2 linked regions of the Homo sapiens genome follow. The protein of the gene in region 2 purifies or fractionates together with the protein of the main gene of each other region. This does not show direct contact. Each region holds a gene or a part of one and is shown on either strand. Other genes may lie near its edges.

Region 1 (2,295 bases), on a different chromosome or scaffold from region 2:
GGATCACTTGAGGTCAGGAGTTCGAGACCAGCCTGACCAACATGGTGAAACCCTGTCTCTACTAAAAAATACAAAATTAGCCGGGTGTGGTGGCACATGCCTGTAATCCCAGCTACTTGGGAGGCTGAGGCAGGGGAATCACTTGAACCTGGGACGCGGAGGTTGCAGTGAGCCGAGATTGTGCCATTGCACTCCAGCCTGGGCAACAAGAGCGAACTCTGTCTCAAAAAAAAAAAAGTATTAATCTGAGATACACTTTAATTTTTTTGGTGTTACATCTTTGACAATCTAATAAATTCGCATTCAGTTTCAGTGGGTTCATGTTACCTTAGTAATTCTTGAGTGTCTTAAGAGTAAAGCTGGCCACATTTGTATCTAAACTGTTTGCTTTGTTTATAGGATTTTAAACTGTCTACGGTTCTTAACCTCATCTGTTAAGTTCCCATGCCTGGAGAAGCTAATGCCAACTCATCATGTGATAATTCAATTTGTACAATAAATTATGAACCTGGAAAAGCTGGTTGTCTTTATTTACAAGATATCAAAAATATAAAAACTGTACAAAATGCAACAAAGGCAAAAACTGGCAGTGACTTGGTCTAAATCTTTTAGTTTCCCAAAGCAAGGCTCAGTACTGGAGGTAAGCAACTGAAATGTCTGTCTGACTTCAAGTGTACTAGGTTGTATGTAGCTGTTTTAGCTGAAGTAGAACATGGAAGCTAAATTTCTTCACCTGGTTTATCGAGTGTTTGGGTGCACTCAAAACTCAACAGGTATATAAATTCAGATGTCAGTGGGTGGCTGTACTTCCTCTAGATCTAAGAAAGGAACCCTACCTAGTTACATACATTCCATTAATCATGGGCCAAGAAAAAAAAAGTTAGTGGATCATTTAACATAGTTTTTGAGTGCCATACAGTAACTACGTTTTTACAGCAGAAACATACATGCTCATAGGATTCTTCAGCTAAAATTCAAGATGATAGTATATTTCTGAATTTGAATCTTGAAGCAGGATGAATTATTGAAATCAACTTTTTTTCTAAATGTAATAAATTAAAATAGCATTTGAACAGAAAATGCATAGTTTCCACACAATCCAAAGCACCATAAATGTCCCCTCCATGATCATAATACCTCTTATTCAACTAACGGAAATTAGTCAAATGTGGTTGCTATAGAAACGTGGAACTGTCCTGTTCAGATTTTTCCAAGCAGCATACTTCCAGATCCATATAGACAAAAACATTCTCTGTAGCTTAAATATTAATCACTGAGGTATTTGCTTTTAGTCTCCCTTTTTAAAAACAGTAGCTTCCAAAAGGTCTTTAATACCGATGGTTTATTGTGGACTATAAGCTCCTGCAGCTAGAACCAGGTTTCTTCGAGTAAAATGAAGGTGTACAACTGGTGTTGATTTGGTCATATATGTTCCCAACAATAACTCCTGTGAATTCTCAGGTAAATTTATATGCCCAGTGGCTGTAGTAAAGTCATCGGTCTCTAAATCTTCAAAGGCTTTGATAGCATCCCATAATCGAACTGTATTATCCATTGAACCTAAGGGGAAGTCAAAGGAAACCATTAGTTGCATCCATCATATTTACATTCGGACATTTTGTCCACTACACTATGTATTTACTGTACATTTTGGGTGAAAAATCTAAACTTGACCAATAACTCTATTCCTTCCTAAGGAGCATTATCAAGCAGTACTTTAACCTGAGAAGTGATTGATGTAGGATGACACTCTGGAATCATAGCTAAAGGGAAGTAAAACCTAAAACATAAGGACTTAGTATTGCAGTCGTCAACACTGTTTCCTCTTAACATAGCATTTATCGTAAAGCCATTAATAGTCATTTACCTGATGCCAAAATTTCACCATCTCTACTAAACCTAAGTGAACAGACTGTATCAGTGTGGCCTTTTAATTCTCCAACCATCAAACCATGTCCAATATCCCAAAGAAGCACTCTGCCATCTGTTGCTCCTGTAGCCAGGAATCTCCCATTGGGAGAAAATGTCAAGGAATGAATTGGTCCCTAGAAAAAAGTTCATAGAAAAGATCAAAGTATGTCTAGGAAAATAAGACAAAATTTTAAAGTTTTGTAGTAAGAATGGTATCTTTAAAATTTATGTGTCACTTGTTTAAAAAATATTTTTATTTTGAAAGCAACCTTGGATGCTGGAATAGTAAGAGTGTAAAATACCTTGTGTCCAGTGAAGATCCTTACACAGTTACCATTCAGGACGTCCCAGAGCCGCACAGTTCTGTCTGCAGAGCCCGTAGCA
Region 2 (3,500 bases):
ACCACCTGAGGTCAGAAGTTCAAGACCAGCCTGGTCAATGTGGTAAAACCCCATCTCTACTAAAAATACAAAAAAATGGCCAGGTGTGGTGGTGGGTGCCTGTAATCCCAGTTACTCGGGAGGCTGAGGCAGGAGAATTGCTTGAACCCAGAAGATGGAGGTTGCAGTGAGCCGAGATCGCGCCACTGCACTCCAGCCTGGGCGACAGAGTGAGACTCCATCTCCAAAACAAAACAAAAAGAAAGAAAGAAAGAAAGAACACTAGAGAAAAATTAACAATGTGTTAGACAGAACTTTGTCTCAAAACAGGCAAGTTTTATTGTGGACTATAGTACTGATACCATGGCAACCTGTTTTCCTAAAAATTTCCTAACACAGGCCAGGCATGGTGGCTCGTGCCCATTGCCCATAATCCCAGCACTCCGGGAGGCTGAGACAGGCAGATCACTTGAGGTCAGAAGTTCGAGGCTAGCCTGGCCAACATGGGGAAACCCTGCATCTACTAAAAATATAAAAATTAGCTAGGCGTGGTGGCGCATGCCTGTAATCCCAACTACTTGGGTGTCTGAGGCACAAGAATCACTTGAACCTGGGAAGCCGAAGTTGCAATGAGCTGAGATGCCACCACCGCACTCCAGTCTGGGTGACAGAGTGAGACTCTGTCTCAAACAAAAAAAAAATTTCCCAGCACAGTCCTCAGGGTATCTAAAACTAAAGGAAATATATATCTCTATCTATTTGGTGCAACAGTCATGATCATTTCCTCTCTTAAACAGGAAAACAAAAGTCACACCTCTAAATACAAGCATATTTGCCAACCTCCTTAGTGTGTGGAAGCTTATAAAAACCAGCTGAAACAAATAAACAAAACCAGCACAACATGGAAGAAGGAATTATAACACTTTACCCTGCACATTTAAAGCAAAATATGCTTTTAATAATATATTTTATATAAACCTCTATAGTATATATTTTATAAAAATGGATTTCAACTAAAAACTAAGACCTGGTTATTAGCCAGAATAGGAAAGAACAGTCTGCAATTCACTTTGTTTAGGCAGAAACATTTATTTTTAGTCAGCAGTTTCCAATGTCCACACAACTAAACTAAAACATTTGGACTTAACTTTTTAAAGTTAGCTATTATTTCAGCAGCAGCCTAAACAAAACTATAATTATCAAATTATTTTCCTGATTAGGTAGCTTCAGTATTTGTTTTTAGCTTTACCATAAACAAATAATTTTGCTATCCTACGAAGTCATTCTTGAGCCACCTGAATTACTGGGGCAGAGCAGCAATTTTAGCTACTTCTAAAATTACAAAAAAAAGCTACTATTAGAACATTCATAGTGGCACAGAAAGCTCACAACACATGGCTTTACACTGATACTAACAAGCTTCAAGTTTACCATCAACTAAGGTTATACAAGTAAAAAATAGTGCCTTCTAACGAAAGCCTAATTCTGTTAAATGAAACCATTGGGGTTTATTCCTTTTATTCAGAAGTATCATACAGCTAAACAAGTCAAGTCCACAGGGAAATAGTATTTCAATAGCTGCAACATGGTGCCAGCCCAGGCTTTGTCGGCCTTCCTTTTCCAAGAAACAGAGATGTCTCTCTTTACTTAGTCCATCTGCCATCAGTGATAACCAGATGCCTGTGTGACAATTCAAAACTTAAAAAAAGTACTTCCCCCTCCTAAAGCCTAACAGCAGAGATGAGTCCAATAGTCAGTGAACAGAAAGAAAGAAAGAATTTCAATGCTCTAGTAGAAAGCCTCCCAACCAAAGAAACAAAGCATCCAAGTGGTCCAACAGTTCACCTTTAAAATAATATCCAGTGCCACTGCTACTAGCACCTGCTAATACTTTTTAAAGCTTTTAACTAAAGTTCTAAGTGCTTTATGCTAATTCTCACAGCAACCCTGTAACGTAGTAGTAGTATTAACTCCCTAGTACAGATGAGGAAACTGGGGCTCAGGGCAGTGAGAAAGCTATTTAATATTTAAGGCCATGCCATTAATTAAAAGCACAGCCATGATGCTGAACACAGGCTGCCTGCATCCAGAGTCCGTACTCTTTAAGTGTTGTACCAATCCCAATCTCAAGAAAACGTAACTGATTCTGATCAAAACTCTTCTGTCTCACAGTGAAAATACTTGTAATTTATCAGGAGCGGGAACGTTAACACCTGATTCTTTGGAACCATTTTATTAATGGAAACAAATTTTTTTACTGCTTTTAAGTAAGACTTAAGTTCTCACCTAGTGAGTTAAAAAACAAAAACATACCATGGGCCAATGTCTACACACAGATGTCTATCTTGTGCTAAGCACAATTCAATGCTGAAATCATCCACATATGTCCTAAGAAAACTCTGTCCTTAACACACCGTCTGGTTTTCAGTATTTTTTATTAATGGATGGTGAAAGTAACCAACAGCCAAACTTCTGTGCTGTACTTTTTGGTGAAATTTTAAACATTTTCATTATTGACTCCCACACAAAGGCACATCTCCACTACCCCAGAAATCACCCTATTGAGTTTTTTTTTAAAAACATTTAATGGGATCCATAGCATGCTTCAACCCACAAAACCAGCCATTTAAACCAAATTCTCTATTTTATCACCCTTTAGTCACAGACAAGTAGAATTTCTGATGTGACCTGATTCCTTTCCACTAAAGACATACTTCCAGAATCTTGCTTTTTCACAACTACACAAATACACAAACTCCATCTGTCTTCTAAAGAAAAGATTGACTGGTTAATAATACAAAAATCAAATTTGTCTATGTAGCCTGGAAAAACCTCAGATACGTATACAGTCTCTCATCCTTTTGAAATTTCCCAAAGTGGTAGTCATGTGACAAGAGCAAATATCGTGTCTACTCAAGTGAAGGCAGTCCACCATTATCTTTATTGTTTGAATTGGTTAGAAGCTGTAATCATGCTTGAGAAAGTGTCACTGCTTGTAATTTGCATGCCCACAGCCAGAATACAAAGTTGAAATTTTAGGCATCAAGAATCAGATTTCAAAAAGGTTTCCTTCATCCACTAGCTAAGCTCTTGAAGTGAAATAAACAAACATGTATCTCCTTCTATTAACAACGTAATCTTCAAAATACACACACAGGGCAGGGACATACAATATGATGATGGCTACTCATACTCCTGATCCTCAAGAAACTTCTAGTTTAGCAGGCATGATGAAGTCCATTCACCAATAGTGACAGTACCAGGCAGTATGTAATAAAGAATTTAAAATTCATATTTGTGTCTGTCATGTTTTATTACACACATGTCATTTCTCTGCTACCTACAAGTGCACAAAAAGCACCTGAAGGGAAATACCTCTCTCATCCAGCTTTGCACACCTGACACGGCACCAGACATACAGAAGGCACAACAAAATGGATTTAAGTTTCAGGGAATCTTTATTAGTTCGAATGTCACAATACAGCTAAAATTTGAAAACACCAGAGATTTTAACTCAGAGA

Evidence for each region. Proteins that work in one complex are often made in the same cells at the same time.
Region 1: the proteins of TBPL1 (region 2) and TAF5 purify together in Homo sapiens (affinity purification with mass spectrometry, with the first as the bait; one large-scale study listed by BioGRID). This does not show direct contact.

Annotation. Positions count from the first base shown.
Region 1 is NC_000010.11:103,387,271-103,389,565, reverse strand, and holds the end of TAF5 (transcription initiation factor TFIID subunit 5), read right to left. Parts: coding exon 2,214-2,295; intron 2,046-2,213; coding exon 1,868-2,045; intron 1,561-1,867; coding exon 1,343-1,560; 3' UTR 501-1,342; downstream 1-500. UniProt on the Homo sapiens protein: The TFIID basal transcription factor complex plays a major role in the initiation of RNA polymerase II (Pol II)-dependent transcription.
Region 2 is NC_000006.12:133,956,224-133,959,723, reverse strand, and holds part of TBPL1 (TATA box-binding protein-like 1), read right to left. Parts: intron 1-3,500. UniProt on the Homo sapiens protein: Part of a specialized transcription system that mediates the transcription of most ribosomal proteins through the 5'-TCT-3' motif which is a core promoter element at these genes. Seems to also mediate the transcription of NF1. Does not bind the TATA box.